Linked DNA regions of Homo sapiens: regions 1, 2 and 4 are each linked to region 3. Evidence: fine-mapped expression QTL. A gene starts in region 3. Each other region holds a variant in brackets. All regions are shown on one strand. Distances are between the middles of the regions.

Region 1 (8,102 bases), 390 kb before region 3:
GCATTTCTCTAACGTTTAGTGATGTTGCAAATTTTTTCATATATCTGTTGGCCATTTGTATGTCTCCTTTTGAGAAATGTGTATTCAGGTCCTTTGCTCACTAAAAACAAATAAGGTTATTTGTTTTCTTGCTATTGAGTTGCTTGAGTTCTTCAGATATTTTTGATTTAAACCATTATCAGATGTATGGTTTGCAAATATTTTCTCCTGTAAATTGTCTCTTTATGCGGTTGGTTGTTTTCTTTACTGTGTAGAAACTTTTTAGTTTATATAATCCCATATGTGTATTTTTGCTTTTTTTGCCTGTGCTTTTTGGGTCATATCCAAAAAATAATTGCCCAGACCAATGTCATCAAACTTCCCCCTATGTTCTCCTCTAATAGTTTAACATTTTCAGGTCTTACATTTAAGTTTTTAATGCATTTTATTTTTGTATATGGTGTGAGATAAGGATCTAATTTCAATCTTCCATATGTGGCTATCCAGTCTTCCCAGCACCATTTAATTTACACTGTCCTTCCCCTCATCATGTATTTTTGCCATCATTGTGGAAAAAATCAATTGCAAATGTGTAGATTTATTTTGGGGCTCTCTAGTCTGCTTCCTTGATTTATATGTCTGTTTTGGGGCCAGTGCCATGCTCTTTTGATTACTATACCTTTGTAGTGTATTTTGAAGTCAGGTAGTGTGATGCCTCTGGCTTTGTTCTTTTTGCTCAAGACTGCTTGGGCTATTTGGGTCTTTTATGGTTCCATATGAGTTTTAGAATTGTTTCCTATTTCTGTGAAAAATGTCGTTGGAATTTTGATGGGAGTTGCATTGAATCCATAGGTCACTTTGGGTAGTATGAACATTTTAACAATATTATTTATTCCAATCCAGGAACACAGGATATCTTTTCACTTATTGAAGTCTTCCTCAATTTCTTTCATCAATGTTTTATAGTTTTCAGTGTATAGATCTTTGCCCTCCTTAATTATTTCTATTTTTTGATAGATATTATTAAGTGGGATTGTTTCTTGATATTAAGTGGGATTGTTTCTTGATTTTTTTTCTCATATAGGTCACAGTGTATTTCTTTTATGCTCTTATTATAAATTACATTTCTATACATTATGTGTCCATTGACAGAGGCTTGTTTCATATAGTTTTCTCCTATTTTAAAACAAATAGGAGAAAAGGAGTTACAAAAATTCCAGTTGTACTGTCTTTTATATCTACCTATGTAGTTACCTTTATCAGTGCTGTTTATTTCTTCATGTGGATTCACATTTCATTGCCACCTGTCCCCCCTGTCTTCACATTCATTCCCTCTCACTGTCTGATGTATCTTCCTTCCCTACAGTTTCAGACATCCTTCCATTCCACCTGGCAGGCCTGTAAGAGTTTCACTTCCTGCCCATGCAGCCAGTGACCCCTGCTGCCTTTGGAAATCACTGGTTACAGGTTGCCTTTTCTCCCTGCCCTCATCCAAAGCACAATGTGAAGGCATCTATTTCCCAGTCTGTGGGAATATGATCCACTTGAAGGCAAACTGACTTTTTAAAAAATCATATTTCCCATCCTCTCACTAGGAGGCTGAAGCAGTAACCTCTAAAGTGTCTGTTCTACTCTAGCTAATTGCACGTGGCTAGCAACCATTAAACAAAGCAGTTGCCCCCATAAGCAGATATTGGGCTCCAGTAGGGATGCTGTAAAACACAGGGTGGACTTAGTAATGGGTTTCTGGTAGGAACAGACCACCGGGGCTGGCCATTAACACTACGTTACTCAGGGCTATTGTTCATGGACTAATCAATTGTGAATTAGAGTTCTGAGCCATGTATAACTTATTTGTGGCATGGCGTCACCATTAATCATGTTCTGGAATGCCAAGAAAAGACTGAATTGAGTTATGCATTGAAGGTTTAAGGTTTCTTGAAACCAAGCTCACTTAACAGTATTCATGAGTAGATGACGTACTGTGGTAACCGGTCCTTGGTATTAGTCCAATTTCGCAGTGATCCCAGGGGCTAGATAGCTGAGCAGATGCTGAGGTTTCTGGAAAACAGTGACTAGTGTTCGGCATGAGTCTGGGGAGAAACCATATATGGCATATCTTATATTTTCAAAGCTCCAAGTGAGACCAAATGAGAAGGAGAGGTTTAAGATTTCCACATAAAATTCAAATGTTGTATTGGGCTTGGGGGAGAGAGAGAGGTCAGATTTCCTTGCAGTTTGGAACTTCCTTGGAATTCCATAGTACTAGAAACTGACCTTAACATGAGAGTCAACTTTGGAGGGAGAAGACACAAAGCAAGCTCGGAGTTGCAGAGACTTCTAACCTCTAGGTACTTCTTAATGCTCTTGCTACACTATCACCAACAACAATCACACTGGCTACCATGTCTTTGGACCTACTGAGTGCCAGGTGCTGTCCTAGGTGTCTTGCAGACATTAACATATGTAGTTTAACGTTCAGAGCAATATTCCATGGCAAGTTATATTATCCCTATTTTAAGATGGCAAACCATGTAGCATGTGTACCTGTGGCATTGAACACACACAAATTCCAGGTCGGGGGAGTCCCCATGAAGCATGTTCTTGCCACCTCTTCACTGTCTCTATAAATCTATTCTTGGGGCTGGTTCTTCCCCTGACCCTGGATGAAAGTTTTGGTCCATGAATTTTTTTGGTCTCTCCAAGGTAATAAAAATAGTTTCCCAGTCAACTTTCTCAAGTCAACTTAAGTTGCAAAATATGGTCTCGATTCAGTAATAAAACTATCCAGTTTCGTGGCATAATACAACTCTGAATTTCGTTTAAAGTTGAATCTATTCTTTCTCTTCTGGCTTCAGGAGGAAGATTGCCTGGGGGAAGAGTCCACAGTAAGCCTGTTAGAGCTTTCCCCACCTGGGAATTCTTTGTCTTCCATGGGCTGGGGGCAGGTGGAGGGGAAAGGGGACCAGGAAGGTTCCTTCTTGGCAGATACTGATGTGACTATCAAATATGATTGTTCTCTGGGCCTTGCAAGTGCTCAGAGCTAACTTTGCCTCCTAGAGCACGTTCATAGGTGGCCTGGAGATACACATCCATCACCCTGTTATCTGCTGACATCTCTCTCCTGCAGGCTGATGTAGAAGATGGGCTTTTCTCTACTTGCGGTTAGTACTCCTTCTTCAGCTCCAGGGACGCTGGTGGATCACAGCTGGTATTCTCCTATTGTCTCCTCACCACACAGTCCCCTTGGACAGGACCTAAGCCACCGCACATCAGCTGTCTCTCGTACA[T/C]GGCCCCCCACTGTCTCTACTCTGACACACTCTGAAAGTGCAGGCTGATTCTGGTGCAGCTACCTCCCTTCCTCTGCCATCAAAGTAGCTAGGTTGCCTGCTATAGACTGAATTGTCCCCCTGCCCCCCATTCATATGTTGAACCTTAACCCCCAGTGTGACTGAATTTGGAAACAGGGCCTATAACAAGGTAATTAGGGTTAAATGAGGCCATAAGGGTGGGGCCCTCATCCGTAGGATTAGTATCCTTATGAGAAGGGACACCGAGAACTCTCCTTCACTCTTTCTCCAAGAGTGCTCAGAGGAAAGGCCATGGGAGGACACAGCAGCTGTCTGAGAGCCAGGAAGAGCACCCTCGCCAGAAACCAAGCCCTGCTGGATCTTGATCTGGGACTTCCAGCCTCCAGTACTATGAGAAATAGAGTTCTTTTGTTTAAGCCACTTCTGTGGCTTTCTGTCCTGGCAGCCCCAGCCAACAAAGGGCCAATCTCTTTCCATCTGGATTTCTCAGCTGTGAGCCAGGTACCCATCCACTATGCTGCCTAAACATCTGGGTACGTGTATGGTATGAAGTCCCTTTTGAGGTCTCCATGTAGCCCCTCTTCTTTTCTAGGCCCAAGATGGGTGGGAGGTACCATCTCCTCATTGGCAGGGCTGGAACGAGGCACACCAGTGGCTATCTCCAAAGAAATATTTTAATCACCAAAGCCCAGCTTTTTTACATCCATACCCATGGGTAAGGGGTTTTGGTTTGATGGTTTGGGGTCAGGTATTGTCTTGGGCACATGGTATCTCTGCATATTGATGTCAGTCCAAACTTCCATTTTCACATTGTTTAGTAACCAGTTGGTGAGAAGCTAGGCCCGTGTCTTGAATCCAGGTCTCTCTGACTAGGATTTGTAGTCTTTCCAAAACTATATTGCCCTGACTCTCTGAAATACAACGATTTCAGACTGTAAACTCACGAGGGCAGGGCTGTGTCTGTCATGTCTACCACTGTATCTCTTGACTTCTAACGTGTTTAACACAGAGCCCATGCTATTATGGATGTGGAAGTTGCCACGTGCATGGTGGCCAGTGCAGTGCCTGGCACGTATGAGAACTCACTCAATATTTGTTAAAACTGTGGAATGGAGCGGAGAGGCCAGCTTTCTGGTGCCGGAATGAGAATTGGGAATCATATAAGCATGCTGGAGCCTTCTGGAGGTCAAGGAGGTCTGCTGGGTGAGGAAGCTTTCTGGTTACTTCCCAAGGGGCTAGGCCAGGCTCTTCCATTTGGGTCCAGTTTCTACCTCCTTCCTGCTTTCTTTCAGGCATACATGAGTCATCTCCTTCTCCCCTCAGGGGCTTGAATCTTGCCTGGCCCCCAGAGGTGACAATCACTGCAGGACAGAGCCACACCGTAGTAAGCAAGTTACACTCCGCTGTGGGGAGCCGGCATCCCAGCCTGGAGGAGGAGACCCTGTCCTGGGCCTAACCCGCAGATAGGAGCTGAGTCATGATTTGGTAGGTCAGCCTTGGCCCCTGGCTGAAGCAAGGGGGAAAAGCATCAGAGAAGAACATGGTTAGGACAAGGGGCTGAGGGTCATTGCTGCTTTCAGTTTCACCCCTCATGTGCTGTGTGACCTTGACAAAAATCTTCACTCTCTAAACAAGCCAGAGCTGGGAAATCTGCCCGCTAATGCTTTGCATATGTATGTTGCAAGGAATAATGAGACAGGCTCCACGAAGCATGTTCTGTCCTTGGGGGACAAACAGTACAAGCTATTTATTTCAAGAGCATGGCTTAACCAGCTCATCCAGCTTAGCCCAGAAACACCCCTGGCTATCCTGGCATGATCTCTGTAGAAGCAAGAAGGTCTAATTAGGTGTCCTTTTCTGCCTGGAGCCCAGTTGGCCCACTCTGAGCAGAAGGCAAAATGCTGTTGGTCTGGCATTCAAGGTCCCACGTCTCTGTCCATGGCTGTGTCTTAAACTCATTCATTCATCAGGAAATCTTTATTGAATCCTTCATCTGCACGAGGCCCTGTGGTGGGCCCTGGAGGCGGGGGGCAAAACTGGAAACATGCTGGTCTTTGGACCTCCGGTTTCAATTGCTATCAACCCCACAATGCTGCACCTCATGTGCCACCGATTTCCCACTCTCCTCTGTCCCCTTGCACAGCCTGTCCCTTCTGTCCAGAAAGCCCTTCCTCTCCTCTGCCTGCCAGATCCTCACTTCTCCTTCAGGTGTCCTCTCCTCTGTGAGTCTCCATGGACTGCATGAAGCAGAGTGAATCACTCTTTGCTATGTGGCTCTGAGAGATGTGACAGCCTCTCTGGCTTTGGTCTTCCTGGTGTGGAATGTGGCTGCACCCACTCTGTAGAGTGGCCGACAGTCCTGGATTACTTTCAGGGGGCTTCATGACTCAAAGCCAAGCAGGATCTCATTTTGAGATGGGTTCACCCATCAATCTGCCTCAGGACCCAGACCCTGCAGCCAGCATTCCATCCAGCCTCTGGGAGGCAGTTTTGGTTCAGACAAGGCCATGTGTTACATAGCCTTACAGAGAGAGGGCTGGAGGGCAGGGTGCATGGATAGAAGGTACAGAAGACTCCAGGATGCTTGCATTAGAATAAAATGAGAAGAAGGCATACTTTGGTGTTTGATTTATTGGTGTGCTCTCCTTTAGAAGAGAGCCTGGAAGAGTCTGCCTTATTTTCCAACCTGAGGAGGAAGTGCAGTCCACGGGCAGGCCGAGGGTGGGTAGGTGGGGCGTGGCAGGGCAGGAGGTAGCTGCTGACCACCTGCCTTGACGTAACGCATGACCCATCTGTTCCCCTCCCTTAGAACCCACCCGTCCTGGCAAATAGGCCCCATGTTCCTGTCTCTAATCCTCCCAAGAGTCCTGACCACTTTCTTCTTTACCCTCTGTTTTAAAATATACATTAAGAGAGAATGTGAGGAACAGCAGGACCAACAGATCAGGAGGCAGCTGCCCTTGAAAAGATGGTTTGTTACTCACAGTTCCCAAGACAAGGGAGTGTGCCATGGGGGGTCGTGCCAGGAAGCACAGGACTGGGCGGGAGGCAGAGGCAGCAGGAATAAAACATGGACAAGAGCCTCTACTGTGGTTCCATGGGAAGGACTGGGCAAGGCAGGGTAGACAGGCCAGGGATTGGCCTGTTTGATTAATTTCTGCAGGCTTTGGGGTGTTGGGCCTGTCTCTAGTTGCCTGGTACTCGCCCTGGGGCAACGCGGGGAGGTGGGGGTGGCTGGAAGGATGGGGGTGTGGCCAGGGGTGTGGCCTCTGGATTGGTTGGCTCACATTTGAGGAGCACGCTGTGGGGGTGAGTTCTTTATTCTCTCTAGGAAATAGTCCTGGGAGGGGCCATCCCTTCAGGGTTGGCAAGGCCCCAGATGTCAAAGCATCAGGAAACAGAAAATAAAAGACATGGTTATATCTCCTCACACCCAGGAGCACAGCTCTCTGGCCTCCACGTGGCTCTGCACCTCAGCCCTGGATTCTCATCCCTGGTGGGGCTGGGGGTCCTTTGTGGATGGGCACGGGCCTCATGCCACTTGAGAGGGGGAACCTGGACCCAGCCTATGTCCTGCCTAGCACCCACCAGGGTGTGGCATGAAAGAGACTGTGGAGAATGGAAGGGGAAGCTCTGGTGCCCACCAGGAAGGCATGTGGGGAGGGGTGGTGTGGGCTGTGGTATGGGGGATGCACGGAAGAACAAGGGCTCCGGGAAGGACTGGAACAACACGCAAGGCCACAGGAAAGAGGCTTTGTCCTTGCCTGGAATTCCTATGCCTTTCTAAAGGATCAACTTATACAGAGGGGTAGAGCAGACTGGATGCGATTCTCAGAGTAGTCAGAAGTGTGGCACCCAGAGTTACCTGCAGGCTTTTGCTGAAAGCGATCATGTGGCACAGCTGGGAATGACCCCACAGCCAGGGACTGGGCAGAGGGGGTATCCAAACAGTGTGGCCGGTGAGCCCTGGTTTGTAGACCCCTGGCTTGGAACAATGGGGATCCCAGGCATGGGCAGGGGGCAACAGGGGGAGCACATTGCCTGAAGGGTGAGCTGGGAGAGCTTTGAGTAGGAAGCAGTAAAGGGAGCCCCTGTTAGCGGTCTGAAAAGAGTGACTTTGGTATTGGTGAGGTGGTAGGGAGCAAGGCGAGCCAGGCGGCTCCTGCAACAGGCCTGAGCCGGAGCAGTGCCCACAGGGATGGACATGTGGGAATTTAAGACAAAGGACATGGGCTGGGTACGGTGGCTCACGCCTGTAATCCCATCACTTAGGGAGGCCAAGGCAGGAGGATCCCTTGAGGCCAGAAGTTCGAGACCAGCATAGTGAGATCCCATCTCTACAAAAAAGGAAAAAAAACCAAAGTGACAGGACTTGGGGAGGTTCTGTCTATGGGCTGGCTCTCAGGTTTCTCACTTTTGTAAAAACGGAGCAAGGTGGAGCCACTCATTGAGACACACAGTCCCCGGGCGGGAGCCGGGATTCTGAGAAATGTCCGCTGTCAATTGTGGGAGACTCTGGAGAAGGAGGAAGTGGCGCTCCCCACAGTCTGTTCCATGGAATGCTAATAGCTGAACTAAACAGCCACGGCTACGACCGCTCTCAGCACTTTAAGATACTATTCCATTCCCTCTGGCACCTGCTGTCAGACTGTTATTCCTTCCAGGGTGCCTGTCTTTTCTCTGGTTGCTTTTAAGATTTCTTCTTCCTCCTTGATCTCTGTAGTTTCAATATGATGTATGAGGTGTGGATTCACTTCTGTGCATTGTCACTCTTGTCTTCAATTCTTGCACATCCCCAGCCATGATCTCAAT
Region 2 (8,102 bases), 290 kb before region 3:
ACACTGCACCCTTCCCAGCCGCTGTGGGTCCAGATGAACAAAGAGTCCTGCGGTTTTTCTGGTTCGCTTTGATTTTCCGCAGTGCGGTTTACAGGAACAGTGTATTCATAATGAATTCCATAATCTTGGTCGTGAAATAACAACACCTGGATCAGCCGCAAAACAAAAGGCCATTTTGAAAAGGAAGGAAGGCCCGTGGGAATGCCGAATCTGCACACACAGGCACACTGCGGCTGTTTCTTTATGAGGGGTAACCAGCTCTTTTCTGGGGCTGAAAACAGGTTCCACTGAGGGTGCTCCTTTATCTCAGCCCTGGATTCCTCAGGGACTCAACTGAGGAGTGGGGTGAATGCAAACCATCGTGAGGGAGTTCTGTTCTTTCCTACCCAAGAGAGAGACCAGCTTAGACTAGGAGCTTTAGGATAAGTGACTCTGAAACCTCTCACTGCACTTTTGATGGAGAGCTGCGTCACGCAGAGAACAGTCCACATTCCTGCATGCTCACCCACAAAGCTGCCCTTGCAGACAGGAAAGACACAGATAAACTTTTACCTAGAAAGGCATCAGAGCAATTGGGGTGACTCTATTTCTTTGGAAATGAACATCTTCCTTCACTCCCCATCATCAATCACTGCTGTGTCAGTTGGTCCAGAGTCAGGAGTAAGGCAAGCTCAAGGGCAAAATGCAGCTCACTGGTGATACTGATTCTGCAAACAATGTGTACACCCCAGTTTGGGGACCATGGCTTTCTATATAGAGGCAAAGGGGCACCTCTCATTTTCAGTTTTAAAATCTTGAAGTGACAATCACATTTTGAAAGAAAAGCCATCAATATTAAGCGAGGGCTGAAACTTCAGTTACGGTAGTAGTTGCTTTCTCCGAGTTTTGTTCATCCTGGTCTGAATGAATCCAGGCTGGGGACTTCACTTTAACGGGCTAACCACTTGCTCAGTTTACAAAGGCTTTTGGTGAAAAGGGAAATACATTCACATTGGTGTTTGCTAGAGAAAGCAAATTCTCATGCTAACAGGTGAAGTTTCAGTACAGGTTTTATGTTTTGCCTCCTCTCTTAGTCCCTCTGAATAACTGCTTTTAACTCAGAATAGGAGGATTTGTTCTGACTGTGACTAGGGAACAATCTTATCCCAGATAAATGACTTAGGTACACATTCTTGGGTCCCAGAAACCTACTTGCAGGAACGTATTTGCAGTGGACTTAGCGGGCTGAGAGGTGCGCTGGCAGATTTCTACATGGTTTGGTTGCACATGAAAACTGCCTTACCTTTGTCTCCCCAGAAATTTTAACGGGGTTAACACCACTACGGGGCAACGCCCACCCTGGGGGCCAGCGCTCCCCGGCAGAGCCAGCCTCCTCAGGAGATTCCCTGGGCAATGGCTAGAAAATCTTTTGGGTGTCAACTAACCTGGAACACTTACAGGCTGCCAGAGATCACAAATTAACGGGGAAGAAGAACTTCCACGGAGAGACTCTGGCAGGCACTGTGGACAAAGCGTGTTTTGATTACAGGGGCACAAGCTGCCACAAATCCTGTTTTTTGGAAGGAGACCCGGAATCGATAATGATGAGCCATCAGAAGTTAGCCATGAGAACTCCTGGATCTTGAGACGGAAGCAGGGCGCTCCATTCCCTGGAGATCTCTGACATGTTTAAAAGGAGGCATCACTGATGTTTCAGTGGCTTGCATGGAGGCCTCCCTGAGACAACAGGTAAGACGGCGCCCTGGCCTGGCCCAATGGCTCACAGGTTTCTGGAGGTCACCTGGGGAGTAGAATACCCACATCATCTGATCCCCCTCCCTGATTCCCAAATGCTCGTTGCAAGCTGGGTCTGTGAAACCTGAGGGATTCCAGTTCGGACCTGGAGTCATAGTTCATTTCCGAAAGGTAATGATATACACTCTGTGCAGGCAGATCTATGCATCTCACCAACCGATGCAAAAACAGACTTGGAGTGGGGCTGTCTGCTTAATGAGGCCAAGTCTCCCTGGCTGCCATCCACGTGGCTAAGCATTTCCTTCTTTGAGGCAGCTCCTTTTGAAAAAGATAGGAGCTCGGCCAGGGAAGAGCCAGGGGAAGCAATGAGAGAATTCTGAAGCAAGTTGTGCAAGGGACTGGAAAAGAAAGGACCCAGAGAGGGGAGAGGACTGAGCAGCAGGGGACGGCATAAACCCCTGGAAGCCAGATGCATTTCCTGCCCCCGAGGTCCCAGGCAGAAGTAAACTGGAAAGTAACCTAGTAGACCTCTCGGAGCCACACCCCCTAAGACAAGTGTGGAAGCCCAGCAAGTTACCATCAAGTGCAGCGGTAGTTTGGTTGGTCCCTTGGCAGAGATCTTCTCCCACAGCCCCCTTCTCACATAGCGAACAGTTGTGCCTGCAATCTGGAACTCTCCGGGGAGCTCTATCTTCCAGTCACTGTTGATGGACCCCTTACCCGAGTCTTTGAGAGCTAGAAAGCAAGTTGAAGACCAAAGAATCAAGGGGCTGGGGGTAGGGGGATCCAGCCTGTCTTTAAACGGAATCTACAGCCCCTGAGTGGGGCAGAGGTCTCCCTTCCACAGGGGGAAGGAGGGAGGCCTGAAGCGAGAGAAGGCGAGTGCTCTGTATACTGAGAACAAAAGCCTGGATCGCAGGGAGCACGGAGATGCAGACCCCTAGGATCCCCAGGGAGAGCTGTGGGATTGATGGGCACCTTTCAGCCTGGGCTTCTGTCTCAAAACCAACTCAGATAGCTGGGGTTAGGGGTGGAGGGGCAGGGAATGGAGAAGACCATGGTCTGATATCATTTCACTAAACTTATCCAGCAGATGGTTTTCTGCCTGATGAATTCATTCCATTTTAATGTGTCCCAGGCTACAAACCAGGTTTTGCTGCTTTAGCAAAACTCATCAGTTCCCTTTCCTATTACCTACCTGGGGTTCCAGAAGGAGAAGAGCCCATCTCCAGCACCTCTTAAGGATCTGATATCCCCCCATTACTAAAGTGGACGTCCCTTCAATCAATAACCATTACTCTGTTAAGTATGAAGGTTTGGAAACCCTAGCCACCCACAGATGTGGTGGTCACACTTGGCAGCTGTGGACGAGCAGTGGTTGGGGGCTGAGCGTAGCAGGGGAGAGGCACTCTCACACCCTAGCTCTGTGGGCTTCAGGTTCTCACGTTTGCTCACCCACATCTCTACCAGGGACAGCCTGTGCCAGGAGGGGCTGAGAATCAACATGCTGCTGACGGGCCATAAGCAGAAACTTGGTTTTCCACACAAGCCATGTATTTACTATTTTCTGAGTCGCTCACCAGGATTTTTCTTGTGTCTTCCCACTTCGGGGTGAAGATCATGTGGTTCTCATGAGGACAGCACTCTGCAGTGACATCCTATTTTGTTGCTGCTGTTATTTAGGGAAAAAAAAATCCCAACAACTAAAACCTATTCTGGCATTTTAGGAGAAGTCGGCAGATGACAAGAGGTGACAGTAAGTCTGTCATTTCCCAAAATGGGAACTCCAGGGCACCCTCAGTCCTATGCCCACACTCCCTGTACACACAACTGGAGCCCCAAGGACACCCCAAACTGATCTACATATATCTCATTGGGACCCTACTCAGTCCATATCAATGAAATCAGATTCT[A/G]CTGCATTGACTGTTCTCTGCTTACTGAGGCCAGAAATAAAATGCCCACATTTAATACTGATTTTGGAAAATGAGAGTTGAAACCCAAAAGGGGTTTTGGTTACTGCTGAATTCATCAGCCCCAGGCTGGAGCAGGCCACAAGCAACAGAGGGTCGCTGGGTAGTCACTGGCCTCAGTTCTTGTCTCCAGGACATTATGGTCCCACTGCTCGCTCCCGGCAAACACACAGACGCAGGCTCAGGGCTTCTCGTGTTAGAGGGACTGCCAAGAGAAACAGGTTCCTCGCTTCTAGGAACTTTCCAGCAGAGTGGCTTCCAGTGGGGTCTCGTATCCAGGGTGGCTATGAGAGGCTGAGGATTATAGGACTCCAGGGACAGCTTAGGAAAGAGAAAGCCCTGCCACTTGGAGCCGAATCTGTTTCCCTTCAAGAAATCCAACCCACAACTGAACTGTCCTGGCTATGAAAAGGAGGTGAGAATGTTGGGACACCCACAGTTTCCTCTCCTTTTTCTCTTCTTCTGCCACCATCTGCAAACTGCCATTTAAGGTGCATATTCTCTAGGTTGGCTCTTTCATATACTCTGACCCATTTAATCTTCTCAACAACCCTCTGAATTATTGTCATCACTTCATGGGTGAGGCAATGGGGGCAGAGAGAAGTACCTTGCCCAAAATCACAAAGCTATTCAGTTGTAGAGTGGAGACCTGAATCCAACAGACCAACCCTACTGCACTTATCACTCTGACAACTTTCAATTCCCATTTCTTTAGCATCAGTCTAGATTTTATGACTAATGCTGAAATGTGCAAAGGTAAGGCCTGTTTTCAAAAAGGACAAATTCTACGCTCTGTTACAGGGTTTCATATTCTATATACCCTTACAACAGTGACTGATTTCACGGATTTCCAATGCTTCTAGTGAGCTAATAATGCAAATACATACTTGGTTATATTAACTATAGGCAAATATAGGCAAAGGGTGCATGGACGTTCATCATTCTTTCAAGCTTTCTGCAGGTTTAGAAAATTGTCTCTTGCATATGCATGTGTCTATTTGGTTTTAGGATCCAGTGTGGGCTGGTGGGAAGGAGCAGATAGAAAAAACCAAGGGGCCAGAGTCCTTTAAGACAGCAGTCCCCAGGACTGCTTTTTGGGACTAGGGACTGGTTTCGTGGAAGGCAATTTTTCCACAGACCAGGGGGTTGGGGGAAGTGGGGTGGCGGGGGATGGTTTTGGGATGAAACTTTCCACCTCAGATCATCAGCCATTAGATTCTCATAAGGCATGCACAACCCAGATCCCTTGCACGTGCCATTCACAATAGGGTTTGCGCTCCTATGAGAATCTAATGTCCCACTTCTGATCTGACAGGAGGCGCAGCTCAGGCGGTCATGCTCGCTCGCAGGGCACTCACCTGCTGCTGTGCAGCCTGGTTCCTAACAGACCATGGACTACTGCTGGTCCGCAACCTGGGGTCTGGGGACTTCTGCTTGAAGAAACACCTCAGAAAGCATAAGTTGGGGGAACAGCAGATGTACCCTGCCATTCCCTCAGCCTATTTTGAGGGCCTCCTCACTGCTGGCTAAAGACAGACACAGCTCTTGCTCCCAGGGAGCTCACAGTTTGGAAGGGAGAGAGAGAAAAGATGAACACAACACAATTTCACAAGCTTTATGGTAAGGTGCCTCCGGGGCCTGGGAATGTTGTGGGACGGGGCAGATGGGGAAGGCTTCCTGGGATAAGCCCGCTTTCAGCTGAGCGTGTAAGACAGGGAGAGGAGACAACGCCACCCGCAGTGTGTGGCTCAGTGGTGTGTGGCTGCCTGCAGTGTGTGAGGCAGGACGGTCATTCCTGATCCTCAGAGGCCAGGACTGCTAAGATCAGTTCTGGGCGGGGTGATGGAGGGAGGAAGGCACAGCACCCCATATGGAGAAGCAAGTGGAAGGTAAAGTTTTTTCCACTTTTCAGAGGTTTGGCTGGGAAAAGGAGGCAAGAGAGGGAGAGTGGCCTCAGAGGGTGGGAAGAAGGAAGGGGCTCACTGTGAGGATAGAGGACACCCAGGCATGCTGAGGTGCCCTGTACAAAGGAGACAGAGATGAGCAAATGATTTCTTTGAAGCTGTGTGCTGACCACAGCCACACCAGGGCCTGCTCCGTAGAACCCATTTCTCTCACAAAGACCAGAGGGAAGCCAGGCAGCTGCTCTCCTCCTTGCTGGGCCACCAGCACGGACCGGCTGAGTCCCATATCCACACCCTGCCAGTGACAGACTCCAACACGGGCTGCCCTGAGCTGGGGCCCCAGGCTCGTCCCTGGTTTGTTGCTTCTGTGAACACCCACTGTGCCCATGACACGGCATCTGTTTCTCCCTTTAAGCAATGGTACCCAGGGTTTCTCCTGGGAACATGTTTTCCCTCCCGTCACGTGGGATTGAACCCCACAGTTCCAGGCACAGGCCCATCACCCAACCCCAAACAGGGGGACTTTTGTTCACCTTAGGAAAAGGCAGCTTTCTTCCCACAGGGTTTCCCAGAGACTGGATGTGAGCCTGGATCTACCAGCCCACAGGAAGATGTCCACAGAGAGGACAGGCAGGAGTGCCAGTGCGGAGAGAAACCGTTTCTCCTGTGACATCATTTTAAGCCCCTGGATCCAGCAGTGCCTGAAGCTGGTGCTCAGCAACTGAGAGCTGGGTTTGGCATTCACACATGCTTTTTGGAGGTTGGGTTAAAAAAAAGCTAATCACGATGAGGGCAGAACAGGCGAGGAAAGAAAATTACTATTACAGCTTCCTATAAATAGGCCCCAGATGTTTACCACCCAGCTGAGTACCCCTGAGAGGCAGAAGGCCTGGCACACTCCACCCCTGCCTCAAACTCCCTCCAGGGCCTCTGCCCATATCCCAGCACTAACACCTCTATCCCAGCTCTAACCCTCCTATCCCGGCTCTAACACCCCTATCCCAGCTCCAACACCCCTATTCCGGCTCCAACACTCCTATCCCAGCTCTGACCCTCCTATCCCGGCTCTGACACCCCTATCCCGGCTCTAACCCTCCTATCCCGGCTCTAACACCCCTATCCCGGCTCTAACACCCCTATCCCGGCTCTAACACCCCTATCCCGGCTCTAACCCTCCTATCCCAGCTCTAACACTCCTGAGGAGGTGACTCTTTCTCCACTGGCCTTGTTTATGTATTCCTCGGGCCCTTTTTTTAAAGATGTTTTAAAGTGACTCTGAATGACAACCTACAAACTACCCCACTTCCATGCCAAAAGTAAAACATCTGGGAAGTCAAGAGTGAAAAGGCCCAAAAAAGGGCAGGAGGGCACACCTGGAGACGGTTATAAGACCATCCTCAGAAACGCTGCACAGAGGTGGCGGCTGGCCTGGGGAAGCCCTGCTTCTGCCATCGGAGGCCCGACACTGGGCGGCAGCAGCAGCAGCAACTACAGCACGAGGTGGAGATAGAGCCACTAGGGCCCTGGAGCCTGCCATCCTCTGATCACCGGAGCGGGGTCTTGCTTGTCTGTAGCGGAATGGGTGGGAGAGGTGTCAGGAAGAGGGCTACTGGAGGCCACGGAGGAGTCACTGGGTATGGTCAAGGAATTGTGGGATAGGAAAGCGAAAGAGGCTGCGGCTGACGGACAAACCCAGGCAAGCTCAACTGCTGATGGGAAGGAACATACTGGACAACAGAGTGCTAGCGGCAGCCGGTTCTCTGGGGAAAATAGCCTAGAGTCATGGCGTATTTGCTTCCCAAAGTGTAAATACCCTCACCATGACAGATTTTGCTATCCACCTGGCATCAGTGAACAAGGAGTGGGGAAGAGATGCCTCTAATTGGCTCTCACAAGCCACACACAGCTGTGGGGGCACTCCAACGAATTCTGAAGATGCTTGTCTTTGCTTTGGAGGTCCTGGTCTGGAGCCGATGAGTTGGAGAACTCCTGCACAATCACAACTTGTTTGAGGCCAGGCGTGGGTTTGGGGTCAGCTCTCACAGCCCCAGAAAGAATACACTTGGCATGCCCACGCACTGCCTGTGGCCATCGCCGCAGTGGCTGCAAGTTCTGGCGCACTGCAAATGCAGCTTTCCAGCTCAGAGCCTGCACGCCTCTCCTCGGGACAGCGTGCTCCTAGCCACGCATTTGTGTATCTCCCGGGGAGAGGAAAACACAGGCAGAGTTATTAGCAGGAGGTCAGCAGAGCCAGGAGGCATAGGGGTTACTTCCAACCTTTTCACTTTGGTGTCACTTAGCAAGATTCCAAATTTGCAATTTGCCGTGGTCCATCTGAAAAATCATAACTTCCTGCTAAAATCAGAAGTTCGCGCCTGACATCCCTCAAAAGAGATGTCAGCCTCAGAGATTCCTTTGGGACGTCAAGATCATTTTTAACAGTGAATAAATAGGTTCATTGTGGAGTCCCAAGAACAATGACTTCATGGGGCCA
Region 3 (8,102 bases):
TTGCTCCCCTATAAATTAGAGGTATGCATTCTCTAAAGTTCTCAAGTGGACTGGAATAGCTGTACGGAACTATGAATGTCCCATGTGCCACAAATGACGTGCTACCAACATGGACACGTGGTCTGCAGTCAGGCTGACCAGTCAGAGTGAGGTGGGCTGGGCCACCAGACTGACCCCAGTGATTCCAAATAAGAGTCCTACAGCATGTGGCTGTGGCAACAGAAGAGCTATGGTAGGAGGATCCCCGACCTTCTCACAGTCCTTCAAGGTGGCCTGGAACGTGGATCCCTGACCTTCTCACAGTCCTTCAAGGTGACCTGGAACGCGGTTATGGCTTAATGTTTTGCAGCCCAGAGCTCCTTGGTGGTCTGTCTGGTCCCACCATCTCACAGTGTGCCCCTGGCAGGCCACAGCTTTTTCCAAGAAGGGGTGGACACATTCCAGTGGGTGGCCTTCCCAAGCTTTGTGAGTATCATCCAAGAAAGGATGGCCACTGCTTGGCAGACCAAACCCGACAGCAGGGGGCCTCCAGCCCTCCCCTCCTCTCGTTCACTCTTCCTAAAACAAGTCCTCCAGCCACTCACTTCAGACAAGCTGCAAAGATTCTTTTCAGAGCCTGACGCTCATGCTGTTCTTGAAGTGCCCTCTCCGCTATCCTGTCTACCTATGAAGTTCAGCCTGATTCCAATTCCACTGGCCTTCCACGATCCAGTCCTGATCACAGAGGCAGCTGATCCGAACTTACATAAATTCACGAAGAGTGTAAAGGCCTTCCTCAGACACCTGAAGTTCATGCTTTGAAATGATATGCTCATAGAAACACTTCCAAAAAACCCATGCTCTAAAGACTCTTGGAAATGTAAATACAATGAAGAAGCATAAACAGAAAACAATTAATACTTAAGTCTATGGCCTTTGAAGATCCAAAAGGCGCAGCTGGCCCAGCTTTTCAGGATAAGACACCAAGAAAGGAATGCGGCAGGCCCATGCCTCTATCTGCTGTCAAAAGGAAAAGGAGCAAAAATGGAACAGGTGCTTTACTCTCCATGGCCCCTAAACAGCTACGGAATGATCTATTCTAATAATTCGTCTCCTTTAAACAGACAGCAAACATCTCTGGAGACAAACAGCACAGATTCCATGCAACATGGAATAGAACGTGTGTGCCCCCAGCCCAGGCACTCAACACTCTCTACTGAGCCCTTTAGGAGATGTTCAATACAGTGGGACTTACCAGCAATTAACATGATACTCAACATCCGGAACGAAGTTTTGTTGAACGTGGCCACATCCATTCGCTCGTATGCCATCCGTAGCTGTAGCTGCTTTCACACTGAAAGGGCAGCTTTGAGCAGCTGCAACAAAGGCTATGTGGCCCCCAAAGCCTAAACTATTTATTTTCTGGTCCTTAAGAGAAGAAGTTTGCCCGACTCTTGCTCATTTTTAGATACAAGGACACTTCGAAATGCCCCTCCTCCATGGCCACCAAAAATCATCTACTTATAGCCTCCCTTCCCACACCTTATAGCCGAGCCTGTCGTAGCAAATACACACACACACAACTCCACATCTCCACTCACAGAGCTTCTACCACAGTACCACAGTCAAGAGGGACTAACACAACATCATCAGCCACCTGAACTGAGAACCAAAGTCAAAGCTAGTCTGCAATGCAAACTTGGTTAGCCCAAATTCCTGTTGCTTTCTTTTCTTTACGCTTTCAGGACCACCTTGCAAACAAAGGGTCCACCTCCAAGTCACCCCACTGTCTCTTCCCTCCGGCCTTCAGTACGTACAGAGGGGGAAGTGTCCAATGTCCAGCTCACACGAACGGGATGAACAAGGCAGACTAAACAACAGAAGTGTCTGCTCCGGCAGGAATTTAAAAGCTGAAGTCTTAGAGGTACAACCGCCACTGGCACACACTGAACTCAGCCTGTTGGCCAGGTTCCTTTATCTAAAGCACAGCACCCTCACATGGTGCTAAAGGGAAGGACAGTCTTGCCGAGAAGCTGGCTGAGATGCCATCTATGACAGGGCCCAGCCCTCATTCTGCAAGGATTTTAAATCAATGTTATCCAGCTTTCCACCTCGGCGCCTTCACAGATAGCTCCTTGCTGGAAACTTTACACCAAGAAGTATAAACTCTGACCTCTACAGAAACTCACTAAACCGCAGCAAATGGGATTCAGATGTTTCCATGTACAGTACAATGATGTGACTTAGACTTTAAACACTTTGGCAAAAACAGGAAAAATGATGTGGCCCTTCCAGTCCCTCCCAGAACATGATACAGCCTTGACCCGAGCCCTACAGTGATCTGAGCCTTTCTCACTCCTACTTAAGCCTCCTTGCCTACAACCCACATTCCCCGCCCCAGGTCCACATTCCCCGCCCCAGGTCCACATTCCCCGCCCCAGGTCCACATTCCCCGCCCCAGGTCCACATTCCCCGCCCCAGGTCCACATTCCCCGCCCCAGGTCCACATTAGCTCCTTCCTACCAGGCCCCCTCCAAGGGTCTATATCACTTTCCTTGTTTCACCAAAGTTGCCTATTTTTCCCAGCTGAGCAAAAGTCTATCATACCCTAATCAGAACTCAGAAAATTCCTGAAAGGAGAGCCAGACTGATCTAGGAAACTACACACAGAGATACCCGCAGGACTGGGAAGAAAGAGAGGTCTCACATAAGACCTTGCACCCCCAGCCTTCTAGCTTCGTAGATTCTCGAGGACTCGCCACAGACTCTGTGAGTAAGGGCTGGAGAATTCTAGATGGTGGCACAAGAAAAGGTGGAGGTGTGGGGAGCAGTTTCTTGTGCCTGGGAAGGACAGACACAAACTAATATCAGAAACTGCCTCCCCAGAGGCCAGTCATGACAGAAGACAGAGAACCCCTGCGGTTCATGCTCTGGGTCCATACCAAGCTTCGCTGGGGGCAGCCCATCTGCCGGCCATGTGTGCGGCTTTCGGGGCACGATGGAGAAGCTGAGTGCTCGTCTGGGCGCCAGTGTAGCCACATGATCAAGTGTGCGCGCAGGCAGGGCAAGTGCACACAAGAACCCCCCCTCCCCCTGGGAGCACCTGTTCCGGGTGCCTCAAATGCAACAGGCCAGGAACTTCGGGGCAGGGAAGTTACTGCCACAGCAAGGGAGCTCCTGGGGGCAGGAATAGGGTTTATCACCAATGTAAACACCCCTCAGGCCTGGTTGGGGGTGGGCACCAGATAAATGCCTACTAATAGTATAAGGAAGCAAAGACAAACACCCTTTCTCTCCTGTTTCTTACGTTTCAGCTAGGAAGAGTGGGGTGAGCCGTGGCCTGTCTGGGTACCTCTCCAAACTTCCTGTTCCAGGTACAGAGAGAAGACTCAAAAGGAAGGGAGGTGAATGCCCACTCCCCCACCTCCAAGTCCAAGAACATAACACCTACACGTACACAGGTACTCCCGTGACATACACTTTGACACGGCGGTGCAGATGCAGTGTTCTCTACATTGGGGCCAAGGCGCCTCTGTCCAGGGCCCTGACAGTTTCATCCCTGCCAGATCTGCGCTCCCTAGAGCGGGCGGCGTATACCCCACGCAACCCCAGCTCCGCGCGGGTTCCACGGGCTGCAGAGGCGCTGGACTGGGATGCTGCCCCTCCCACCCCCTTTGCCTATAGAGGGTACCGAAGGCCGGGGTGGGGGATGGGGAGAGGTGGAAAGGCAGGGGGTTCCCTCCGGTTCCCCTGGAGGCTGGACTTCCAGCAGAGGCGCCCCACCCCCACCCTCCACGGCGACCACTCTGCGTCGCAACAGACCGGACGGGCCGACCCGGAGGTGGCGCGGGCAGTACCAGGCCGCCGGCGGCGCCGCAGGCGCTGAGCGAGACGAGGGAGCCGGGGTGGCCGAGCACACGGCCCGAGTAGAAGCACAGCTCGGCGGGGCGGCCGCGGCGCCGGGCCGCGCCCGCCTCCTCCACCTCGAAGCCTCGGGACAGGAAGCGCAGGTCGCGGCGCAGCTGAAGGTACAGGTCGCGCCCGAAGGCCGGCAGGTGCAGCAGCAGGGCGCGCTCTCCGGGCCGGGCGCGCGGGGCGGCTGGGGGCGTGCGGGGGCGTCGCCGCCGTCGGGGCCCGGGGGCTGCGGGCAGCGGCGGCAGGTGCACGTCGTCGGGGCGCACCCGCCACGGGAGCACCACCTCCACGTCGGCCGCCGCGTCGCCGACAGCTGCGGGGAGAGAGGAGACGCGTCAGCGCGGCGGGGCCCGCCCGGACGCCCGCCCTCCCGCTGGCCGCCAGCCGCGCCAGCGCGGGGACAGCGCGACCCGGAGCCGGCGCTGCCTTCCCTTCCCTCGCCCGGCACCTCCACGCTGGCCCGCGCCACCCGGGGAGGGTCTCCGGCGCAGCCGCGCGAGCACCTCCCGGAACGGCGCCGCGCATCGGCGAGCGGAGACCCGGCGGCGGCGCGCCTGCCACGGAGCCACCCGATTCCCGTACTCCGGCCGCGGCCCGCGCCTCCTCCGCTCGGGCGCCGTCAGCGGTCCCGCCGCCGCCCCCGGGCCGCCAGGACGCCGCGAGAACGCAGAGGGAAGGTAGCCGCAGGACGCGGGGTGAAGAGGGCTGTGGGAGGGGGCGCTACCTGTGCCCGGGTCCAGTCCCCAAACCAGCAGCAGCAGCACGGGCAGGACGAGCGGAGGCAGCAGGGCGCCGTCACACATGGTACCCGGGACCGGCAGCCCCCCCGGACCGTGGCGGCGAAGCAGGAGCGCGCTAGGCGGCGGCGCCAGCCGGAGTGAAGCCCTCCAGCCTTTGGAAAAAGTAATTAGCGCTGCGGACAAACCCAACGTGGTAAACCCCAAGCCCCGCCTTCCCCTCGGAAGGCGGGAGGGGATTGGGCCCTCGCTTTCCTCCGCCCCGCCTCCTCCTTCCCTACTGGTTGGGATGGGTCGAAACCACAGTGCGTAGTTAGGTTGTCAGCGCTTTCTTACACGTGGTTTCTGGGCAGTGGCGGGGACACGGCACCAGGTGGCGCGCGGGAGCCGACCGGAGCCGTGGGACCCTGGAAGAGCTGGAGGATGCGGGGCTGGTCTTCAGAGCTTGTCCTCATTTTGGAACTCTCTCAGCCTGCTGCCCAGTTTCCCGGGAAGGTAGGGCGGAAATCGCCCCGGCCAAGCGGTTTCATCCAAAACTGCATATAATCTTTACATCTGAAGTTAGGTTTTAGTTGTTTGTGGCCGCAAAGACTCCCAGTCCACTTTCCCGCACACCTGAGTTAGCACCTGAAGGCTATATCCGCGGCGTTTATCCAAACTCTTCACACCTCCTGTCTTCTTTAATCCCACAGGAGCCAGTGCAACACGCATGCTCACACCCTCTTACAGACTGAAAAACTGAGGAAGAGAGAGAGCTTAAGGAAAAACGCTGAAGTTACCCAGAGAGTTCCTGTTGGAGCAGAGGCTAGAATTTGTGATCCTGATTTCTGGCTTGGTGCTTCTTATTAACAGCAGGATCCCCCCGCCCCGAGGGAAGCAGGACTCAGTGTTACAGGTTAGGAAACGGAGGCACAAAGTCCCAAAGCCTAGCCTTGAACGTGAGTCTCCCAGAAACAGAATGAGTTGATCCTTTCCTGCCACAATATAACTGAGGTCTGCAGGGAAGGTGACTCCATTAGCTTGCTGAATAGCATCTTGTAGAGGCTCATGCCTGTAATCCCAGCACTTTGGGAGGCCAAGGCGGGCGGGTCACGAAGTCAGGGGTTCCAGACTAGCCTGGCCAATATGGTGAAACCCTGTCTCTACTAAAAATACAAAAATTAGCCAGGCGTGATGGCGCACACCTGTAGTCCCAGCTACTCGGGAGGCTAAGGCAGAAGAATCGCTTGAACCCGGGGGGTGGAGGTTGCAGTGAGCCGAGATTGTGCCACTGCACTCCAGCCTGGGCAACAGAGCAAGACTCCATCTCAAAAAAACAAAACAAAACCAAACAAAACAAAAAAAACAATTAAGTGTAACCATAACCAATCTCAGGTTTCCCGTCCCTTCCCTGTCCTGCTCTTTTCCATTTTATCATAGCAGAAAGGTTATAGTTCCCCGCTGGATGCTGCTTGAAGCCTCGGAATCTAAATTCATCACAGGATTACATATCATCTGAAGGAATCTATAACACTGGCCACCTTCCCCGAAATATAATGAACCCCAAGGCTGAACAGTGACCCTCCACAGAGGCTTGCCACAAAAGGGGCTGCCCTCACTGCTTGGCACCTACAGTTCTGGGGGCATCTGCACAGGTCCTGCTCTTGGCCAGGCCTGGGGCTGTGTTTCTCCCCCTTGCCTCTGTCCAGGTCAACAACCTCAGATGACTGACAGCTCAGTAGCATTTTCTGGCAGCACAAGAAACCTTGGTGATTGAGGTGATGGACACCTCATTTACCCTGATGGGATTATTACTCATTGTATGGCCATATCAAAAAATTTCATGTATATACATTTTGTAAACATATACACCTACTACGTACTCACAAAATATTAATTTTTTTAAAGATATCACAGTAAGTTTCTTAGTGAATCTTTTTGTCAAAAAGAGCCATTTCTAAGGCCTGCCACTGAAAACCATGGAGTATGGGCCACACCACCTCACAAGCGCAAGTCAGCCTGAAGTAGCCATCACCAACCTATCAAGAACCTATCCAAGATGCTCAAATGCTAAAATTAGTCCATAGGGACATGAAAACTAAAACAGAAAGATACTATTTTATCTCCCAACTAACCAAAATTAAAGAGCTTAGAAAAATCAAGAATTAGAGAGGACACTCTCCTACCTAGGGGTGGAGAGTATAAATTGGCACAGCCACTCTGAGGAACAATTGGGCAAACTGTAAAATTAAAGTTTTACTTTTTAGTTTTAATAAAACTAAAAATGCACACATTCTACAACTCTGTAATTCCACGCTGGTTAATTACTCCAGAGAAACTCTGGCACATGTACAAGAATGTTTGTTCACCAGGGCACCTTATTAAGAGCAAAAAATTGCAAAAACCTGAATGTTCATCGTTACATAAACGGCTACTTGAACACCATTAATTAAAGGAAATACAAAAATCTCATATATGTAACAACATGGACAGATCTCCAAGATCAGTTATCGAATTTTTTAAAAAATCAAGTTGCAGAATGAGGCACACCGAAAAAAAAATGTGTATAAACACACAGACACACATGACATGATCTGCATGGATTCAGATAAGTGTACATAAAATCCAAGAGGAAAGTCTGGAATAATACAAGCCAAACTTTGTTAAGGTTTATTGTTCTTTTTGTATTAATTGCATGCTGAGGAAAGGTACTACAAAAGGAAAATGAACACCTGGGACCCCAATTCACTCTGCCAAAGGAAAAAAATCAAGCTGAAAGCTGAGTCAAGCAATCAGCTGCCTTTTCTTCTGTTCCTAAGCAGACAGCGACAGATAAAAGGTTCAACATCTCCACAGGTAGCTGGTAGAGTAAGAGGGAGAAAGAAGAAATGGTAAAGTGACATGAAGGCAAGACGGTGTTCCGTGACTCCGTGCTGCTCCTGTCCCTGTATTGGATTCCAGCACCAGGGGCCTGTGTCTACTGCTGCACTGTTGAAGACACTGTCACGGTTATCATGGTTGATTCTGGATCTACCAAAGTAGTGCTGCCTTGACCGGGGCCCAGTTCTCATTGCCACACCAGCAACTTCCAGCACCTGTTAACATGGAATCCTTACCTCTGCCTCCTGCCATCTAATCTCCTGCCAGGGCCTCTTTTTGGCAGAAGCTAGCAAGAAGCCTAAGAAAATGTAAGGGAGTCAGAGAATGAAGGTTGCAGACTTTCAGCTTCAGTAAAGAGCAGAACATGGAAGTGGGTATGTGGGGCTGGGAGACAGAGCCGCTGAAGGTCTTAATCTGACCACCATGAGTCTGAATTCCCTTTGCCCTTCATCCTTGTATTCACCAGTCATATTAAAAGTTTAAGCTTCCATGCCTTCCACTTTCTCTTTCACAGCATTTCCTCCACAATACTGTGAACTGCCTTCCCCTACCCAAATCCAAGATCCTCCTCAGTCTTGAAACCTTCCCACTGTGCCCTTAAGAGCTGCTGCT
Region 4 (8,102 bases), 360 kb before region 3:
TCGAACTCCTGACCTCAGGTGATCCACCCATCTCGGCCTCCCAAAGTGCTGGGATTTACAGGCATGAGCCACCACAACCAGCCAGATCTTTAAGTGCTCTTCTTCTCCTTGTATCACCACTGACCTGGGGCATGAACTGGTAAGAGGCCAGGTTCCGAGCACCCAGGGCCAAACCACTCACACAGTCTGCAGCCCCTCCAACCACGCCTGTCTGCTGCTCAAGCATCAGCCTGGGGTGTGCCCCATGTGTGCATCCTCATGGCATCATGAAGGATGCCCCTGGAGCTTTCATTTCTAGAAAGAAGCACTTCCCTTCACATTCCTCATGCACAGGAAACCTACAGTGTCTGTGGAACATTCTCCTGTGTTGGGCAAAGGGGTGAGGGAGACGCTCAGGTGCCTGTGTTGGAGACAGCAGTAAGCAAACACCACTTCCATAACAAGGAATGGAATCCATCTCTGAAACCTCTTCTACAGAACTGACAAATGTCAGCCTTATGTGACAAGTGAGGCCCAAGAAGGGGCTTTCTGGCTGAAAGAACCTCACCGTCAGGGAGGACTTACTGGGCAGGAGACACAGCAGCCCCCTGGGAACCGGGGCCAGTGAAGACACTCACCAAGGCGGGGGGAGGTGATGGTGTTGGCGTTGATCCTGTCGTTGCAGACCTCCTGGTAGCACTGTCTGTAGGGGGCAGGCTTCGAGAGGGCGGGGCACTCGCTGCCGTGGCGCCCTGTGACCTTGTGCATGCACTGCACCACCCGGGACTGCAGGCCCTTCCCGCAGGTCGACGAGCACTGCAGAGACAGGACAGCCTGAGTGGGGCTGACATGAGGTCAAGGGACTGGGATGATGGCCTCACAATGTGGCACTGCGGAGACAGGACAGCCTGAGTGGGGGCCTACACGAGGTCAGGGGGCTGGGATGATGGCCTCACAATGTGGCACTGCGGAGACAGGACAGCCTGAGTGGGGCCTACACGAGGTCAGGGGGCTGGGACGATGGCCTCACAATGTGGCTGCCCCTGGGCTGGGCACTGTGTGTCATGCCCAGGCACTTGCAATCATTCAGGGCAAAAACAGCAGCTGCCTGATAGAAGACTGTTTCAAGATGTTATGGAATACATGTTTGTGTCTCTGCAAAATGCAGATGTTGGAGCCGTGGAGGTGGGTGGCTTTGGGAGGTGAGTAGGGTTAGATGTCATGAGGGTGGAGCCTCCATGCTGGGAATAGTGTGAGAAGGGAAAGAGACCCGAGCTTGCTGGCTCTCCACCGTGAGAGGATACCGTGGTCTGTAAATCGGGGAGGGTCTTCACCAGGCACTGGATTTGTTAGCACCTTGATTCTGATCCTCCACCTCCAGAACTGTAAGGAATAAATGTTTAAGCCACCAGGCTTCGGTACTTGGTGACAGCAGCCAGGGGAGACTAAGATGTTAAGACAACAGCTGAAATATTAACTCATGCTAGCTGCATTCCACCGCTCGCCTCTGCTCCAGGCTCTGACGTTTTTGAGATGGTGAGCAGCATGGCTTGGTGGCCCCCAGGAAGGACCGGGCCTGATGACCACAGAGGTCTCCCAAGCACTGTCTGCTGCCTGAGGCTCCGGGGCCTTTGCCCAGTCTTGGGCATGGAGAAGAGCCCAGTAATGACTGGGGTTGAATTTCCCACAAGCCTGGAGGATTGGGGCTTAGAATTAAGTAAAAGAAAACAAAGTACAACCTTTCTTGCATACCAGAGTCACGCACTAACATGTGGCTGACGGTGTTGATTTAGACATCCCTGGCTGCTGGCATCTCCAGCCCCAGCATGAGGAGGTGCCGTGTTTGCTAAAACCTGGTCAACATAGTTGAGCAGAGGCCCCCAAATTCCCAAGGAGTGGACCCGGTTAAGACTTCGTGGTTCTGTTCTCCGTCCCTCCTCTTCATATATATATATATATATATATATATATATATATATATATATATATATATAATTTTTTTTTTTTTTTTTTTTTTTTTTTTGAGATGGAGTCTCGCTTTATCACCCAGGCTGGAGTGCAGTGGCGCAATCTCGGCTCACTGTGCAACCTCCACCTCCCTGGTTGAAGTGATTCCCCTGCCTCAGCCTTCTGAGTAGCTGGGATTATAGGCACCTGCCACCACATCTGGCTAATTTTTTTGTATTTTTAGTAGAGACAGGGCTTCATCATATTGGCCAGACTGGTCTTGAACTCCTGACCTCAGGCAATCTGCCCGCCTTGGCCTCCCAAAGTGCTGGGATTACAGGAGTGAGCCACCGTGCCTGGTGTCTCTTCACACTCCTTAAAGCATTTCCCAGGTAGGAACTGGCCAGGTATCTGAGTCCTCTACTCAGATTCTGCTCTTGAGCTTTTCGGCCCCTGCTTTCTCCCAGGAGCCCTTGGAATGGTCTCTTCTCCCTTACATTGGCCTCTTCCCAGGAAGACAGCCAGGTCCATGAGTATACTTTGGTGTCCACCAGAGCCCACACAACCCCTGATTTACAGGGTTCTGAGAGCAGTCAGCAAAACCGGTACAGCAGCCGAGCTGGAGCTAGGAATGGCACCTGGGGTGGAGAGAGGGGAGCAGGGCGTGGAGGGTTTGGGCGCAGCCTTGTTCTCTGAATGCCACACGTGGTGAGGGAGGCAGGTGCCCCGCAGATCCTGTGCTTCCCGTGTCCTCACTCTTGGTCCTGACCCTGGCCTTGCTGGAGAAAGGACCTTCCTGGGGGTCATGCGGAGTCTCCAGACACAGGCTGCGTGGGAGGCGGTGGTGTCCCATCTGTGCCTGGGAGGGCTGTCTGCTCCCAGGGGGGCTTCTGCAAGCCAGGTGGATTCCTCAGCTTCCTTGCCTGACAAGCAGGTTCAGGTTTTGTGTGTCTTTTTTCACTTTAGAGTGATAAACATTCAGAGGGAATGTTGCTCTAAAGGGGCACTGCTTTTTTCAGCTCACAAAGGAGGTGTGAAAACTATAAGCAGCTCCCTAGTGGGCCCCCGGCACGTTCAAACTGGAACCCGGGCTCTGACCCGAGAGGCCAGGCCAACCCTAGGGCCTCCCCACTTCATGCCTTGTTCCTTTTCTTAGATAAACCCTTCGGAGGCAGCTCATGGCCTTTCAAATTCATGCATTACACATGCAGATTTCAGGGCTCCATCCCAGACCTCAGGAGTCGGCATCAGGCGCATGGAAGTTTGAGGAGTGCTGAGGTTGAGGGATGAAGTCACACAAGGAAGTTCCCGCCTTGAACACAAGACAGGTGCTACAGCAACGCGACTCCCGCCCTGCTGGTGTTGGGGGCACCTTGGAGGAAGCTGGCTGCACACTGGGATCTACTGCATGCAGCTACCTGGTGAGCTTTGAAAAATCCCACACCAATACAATCCGATGGTGGAGGGGGTCCCAAGACCCAGAGCTCAGTGTTTATAAAGCTCTCCAAGTGCTTGCAGTGGGCATTCAGAACCGAGGGCCTCCGACTTAACCTGAACCTCCTCTCAGGTCCCTGTGGAGAATGCAAAGAGCTCTCTTTTCTTCCTGTTAAGGAGTAGTTGTGTCTCTGCACACACAAATATGTATAATTAAGCAAGAACAACATCCAGGCGCAGCCCTGACTGCAGTCTATAGCCAGATGACAGGTGTGCCTAAAGGTAAGGGAGCAAAGGCTTTCAGTCAAAATTCTTTTTAGAGGCCAGGTGCGGTGGCTCACGCCTGTAATCCCAGCACATTGGGAGGCTGAGGCAGGCGGATCACGAGGTGAGGAGTTTGAGACCAGCCTGGCCAACATAGTGAAACCTTGTCTCTACTAAAAATACAAAAATTAGCCAGGCGTGGTGGCGTGCACCTGTAATCCTAGCTACTCGGGAGGCTGAGGCAGGAAAATGGCTTGAACCCAGGAGGTGGAGGTTGTGGTGAGCTGCGATCGTGCCACTGCACTCCAGCCTGGGCAACAGAGCAAGACTCCATCTCAAAAAAAAAAAAAATCACTTACAAAAGCAATCTGGTAAGTAGTTGTACCCAGAAACTG[A/G]GAGTCCACACAAATGTGGTAGATGAAGGGAAAAGCCAACGTTCCCAATGCGGAACAAAGCCACGGAGCCGAACGCTAAACGCAGAGCGAAGTCACGCCAATCCCCTGCAAAACCACGCGAGTGGTCCACTGGGAGCGGGACAGACTGAAAAAAGGGCAGCATTTGAGTGAAGTCAGATACAACCACGTGCCCTCTGGCAAACCGACAGGCGACTCAAAGTGGAGCTGGTGACGATGAGACCAACACTACAATCACCAGGTTGCACCACACAAAACTGCTTCTATTCAACTGTTTTGACCTCAAAGCATCCATTTCATAAGGCTCCATTTTATAACATACCAAGGAAAATAGCAACATTTCTAAATTTGAATGTTTATAATGCATAACTTTAAATATGAATGTATAACTACATCAATAAGTTACTTAATGGCAGGCATTTGATGAGTCCACTTACATCACTAGAGACTTTTATATCTAAATGTGTTATGTAATTCAAAAGAAACCCTGCTTCCTGGGAAAACGGGATTACCATATAATCAGGGTTAATTTCTGTGACTATTTGGCACGTATGAGGCCCACTTAAGAACAGAGGGCTGGGTGCGGTGGCTCACACCTGTAACCCCAGCATTTTGGGAGGCTGCAGTGGGCAGGTCACCTGAGGCCAGAAGTTCGAGACCAGCCTGGCCCACATGGCAAAACGCTGTCTCTACTAAAAATATAAAAATTAGCTGGGCATGGTGGTGAGCACCTGTAATCCCAGCTACTTGGGAGGCTGAGACAGGAGAATCACTTCAACCCAGGAGGCAGAGGTTGCAGTTAGCTGAGATTGCACCACTGCACTCCAGCTTGGGTGATAGAGCAAGACTCTGTTTCAAAAAAGTAAAAACTAAAAACAGAGAGATACACCTGCTGCCTGCCGACCTGCAGGCAACACCAACATCCCTTTTCTCTTCAGATCTTTTCTCGGGCCATTGGCCACAGTGCCGCCTCTACTGCAAAACATGTACCCAGGAGGGAAAGGCAGGCAGCCTCCTATTCCTTTCTGGAGAGAGGAGCATGGGGCAGGGGGCTGTTGGATTTCTGGGGAGGAAACTGCACAGATGGATGGAGGAACCCGCCTCACTCCCCTGCATCTCCTGAAGAGGTGTCCGTGCCCTGCCAGCTGGGGAGTCAGTCCCACTGAATCACTGCTGTTAAGGGGCTCAGCCCTGCAGGAGTGCCAGGAAGGGCTTCCGTTTCTTCTGCGAGTGTTGCTGATATGTATGTGAAAATCACACAAGGGCAAGGGCTTCACCCTGTGCGTCTATTAAAACCAAGTGCAGCATTGGCAAGGTTTCTGCCTGGAAATGATCAATGACCATCGTAAAACTCAGGCATTTGAGGTGACCTTGCAGACGTGTCCCCTCTGAAAGGTCTTAGTCTTGTGCAGCCTGCTCTGGGGCCGAGGGGAAAAGGCTGACATGTGGCACGTCTCCAGCATATGCAGATGGTATGCCTGCTCTTCCCAGTGGACCCCTCGTAGGCCTCCACGGCAGCACGGAACGTTCCACAACAATCCTCAGGGCTGATGCCGGCCACTGAGGTTGGCACGGGTCCACGTCTTGCTCAAAGTTGCAGAGGTAGGAGTGGCGAGTGGTCCAGGGACCCCATCTCATGGAATGAATTCCACCCTCCTATGTGAATAAGAGGTTGTACTGAATGGAGCTTTAATCGGAAGCGGGAATCAAAGAACCAGGTCACTGCCCATCTCCACCATTTACTCATTATCTTTCCTAGCATGGGTCACTGGCTTTTAATTTTCCAGTCTATAAATAGAACTGCTCCATGAGATCATGGAAGGGTGTCTCCAAAGTCCTTCAACAGGGACAGGTGTCTGTTCTCACTGTTCACTAGTGCCCCCATGAGGCAGGGCCAGGTGTGAGGCAGTTCTGAGGGCAGGTGGTCCCAAGGGCTCTGCCCCTTGTAGGCATTTTACTCTCATCAGAATTAGGGTTTGCTTAATTCTAGCTGGAGTCCTAGTGGGCACTGTTCACACAGCTGTGGGCTATGAGTGGCTCTGACTCACCTGGGAGAATTTTTGAGAATTTTGGGGTGTTTGCTTAACTGCCTGGAGCTGTGTCTGGGCCAGCCCCCTAGAGGATGCTTCCATGTGTTAGGTGAGAAGACAAGTTACAAAGTGGCATGTACAGAAACCACCCCGTTTTTGTTTAATATAGATGTGTGTATACCTATGTAACAGTTTGGAAGACAAACCGTTATAAAAATTTACCATGTCATCATATGGTTTCTGGGACTAATTTTCCTTTTAGTGTGTTCTATAGTAAGAGCTACTTATATAATTAAAAATAAAACTGGAGAATTCTGCCAATGAGTCTGGTGTAACCTGCTGGTGGCCCACCATCCTAACCAGCTGCATTTTCATTTGAGCTGAGGTGCTGCCAGGCCTGCCCTGGCCTAAAATCCACAGGTAATATACTCTCCTAAAGCAGAGTTTTGATGGAGAGGCCATGCAGTGCGGGGTGTCAGGCGGCAGGGGGAAGGGGTGCCTGTTGGCATGCTACGTCCCCACTTACTAGCTGTGTGACCTCAGGCAAATGACTTAACCTCTCTGAGCCTCAGTTTATTTGCAGCATGAGGATAACAAACTCTTGTTTGTAGAATTGTTTCCTGCAGTAGAGGCAGTGTGGAATAGGAGCCTAGCCGGGGGTCTCAGATAGAGTGGAGCTCCACAAATCCTGCTGTTATTATTCTCAACAGTGAATGCACGGCCAAGCGCCACAGCGAGCTGGGCAGGGAGCTCCTGCAGCCCAGCAAGGCACACTGCGTCACCTGGCCCACTCCCTTAGCACTCCTTGGGCTGCCCTTCGGTCACCAGGCCCTCCACAGGCAGGTGCACACAGCCCTGTCTGCCTGGCTCCCTGAGTTGATCAGGCAGCCAGACCTCAGGGAGCACAATTAGAGGCTGTTTTGGCCCTGAAGACAAACATGATTCCAGACAGGTCTGAAGGGGCTGCTGTTGAACGACACCCTCGTAACCTGAGCTGGGCCATGGTGGGCGCACGGGGTGAATTCCTTCTCTGTCGGCCTCCCCTAAGGCTTCAACGTTAATTGAACAGTGAGGAGACTGTAGTGTCTCCTGATAGCATCGAATTTGCCCCAAGCATTGCTGTGAAGCCATTTTTCAGGCTTTAATCATCCAAGCAAACAGATCTATAAAAAACATATCTGGTCTTGTTTGGTCCTTTTGTCAAGGGGCTCATCACATCCAATTTCATGTGGCTTCCCAAGATGCAGGTAACTGAGAGAAATGGGGGCAGCAATAAATTTAGCTGAAAAGCTCCTTGCCGGGAAACCTGAAGTGAGTGGAGCCCCCTCCCCAGCAGGTGCCCACAGCTGTGCGTCGGAGCTGGCTGCCCGGTGGAGAGGCAGCCTCTGCATCTGTCCACCACCCTTCCCAGGCAGGGAGGGGGTGTCACTGGAAAAAACAGGAACAAAATTGTTGATGCACAAAGGGCAAAAAGAGGTTCAATTTGGATTTACTCATGTGCTTTTTTTGTGTGCAAATTATTTCATGAAGTTACTGTGTAAAAGAGATTTTCCTTTAGGTAGAGTTTCCGGCAAAAAGAGAAAAGGTGTTAGGTTCCCCAGACCAGCGTGATACTGAGACATTGTGCAAGCGTTACTAGCTTCTTTAATAATAACAGTAACGGCAGTCACCGTCGCAGCAGGGCCCACCACCTGCCTGTCTGCTGTGTACGGGGGACCGGGCTTACGTACGAGCTTGTTAATCCTCACACTGACAGCTGCCGTGGCCAGAGCTCAGAACACAGTAGGTGCTCAATAAGTGGTGTCTGCTGGGGATGCGGCGCCACCTTTCAGAGAGGCAGAATGTGAGGTTTCAGAGCGTCCATGTAAGTCTTCCCAAGCCACACAGCTAGCCTGCCCCTGCCCCCCACCTGCCCGTACCACCCCCAACAGGGGAGGAACCAGGTCTCCATCACCCCTACCCTGATGACATCCTTCCCCACAGCGGGATTCCCTTCCCCTAGCTTCTCCCAGCTGTAAAATCACAACTGTAAATA

What was found. PIP is the estimated chance that this variant, and not a neighbour inherited with it, causes the effect.
Region 1: its variant is the best candidate, but not a certain one, in a credible set for the expression of ADAMTS17 in thyroid (GTEx, PIP 0.74).
Region 2: its variant is the best candidate, but not a certain one, in a credible set for the expression of ADAMTS17 in whole blood (TOPMed, PIP 0.54).
Region 4: its variant is the best candidate, but not a certain one, in a credible set for the expression of ADAMTS17 in thyroid (GTEx, PIP 0.64).

The regions. Positions count from the first base shown.
Region 1 is chr15:99,949,720-99,957,821 of GRCh38, forward strand. No RefSeq gene overlaps it. Among named protein-coding and RNA genes, the nearest start is that of LYSMD4, 220 kb to the left of the region's middle. The variant T/C (reference allele first, on the strand shown) is at 3,270.
Region 2 is chr15:100,051,586-100,059,687 of GRCh38, forward strand. It overlaps ADAMTS17 (ADAM metallopeptidase with thrombospondin type 1 motif 17), which reads right to left. Exons shown (of 22, transcript NM_139057.4): 16 at 2,312-2,469; 17 at 1-146. Among named protein-coding and RNA genes, the nearest start is that of ADAMTS17, 290 kb to the right of the region's middle. The variant A/G (reference allele first, on the strand shown) is at 3,648.
Region 3 is chr15:100,337,203-100,345,304 of GRCh38, forward strand. It overlaps ADAMTS17 (ADAM metallopeptidase with thrombospondin type 1 motif 17), which reads right to left and starts at 4,773. Exons shown (of 22, transcript NM_139057.4): 1 at 4,619-4,773; 2 at 3,837-4,207. The coding sequence starts at 4,697. SPATA41 (spermatogenesis associated 41) reads right to left here. Exons shown (of 2, transcript NR_028139.1): 2 at 7,255-8,102. RefSeq lists an enhancer at 3,107-3,625.
Region 4 is chr15:99,975,428-99,983,529 of GRCh38, forward strand. ADAMTS17 (ADAM metallopeptidase with thrombospondin type 1 motif 17) reads right to left here. Exons shown (of 22, transcript NM_139057.4): 21 at 618-795. It overlaps LOC105371022 (a long non-coding RNA gene), which reads left to right and starts at 796. Exons shown (of 2, transcript XR_001751713.2): 1 at 796-1,164; 2 at 3,083-5,347. RefSeq lists enhancers at 265-860, 861-1,456, 6,266-7,244. The variant A/G (reference allele first, on the strand shown) is at 4,020.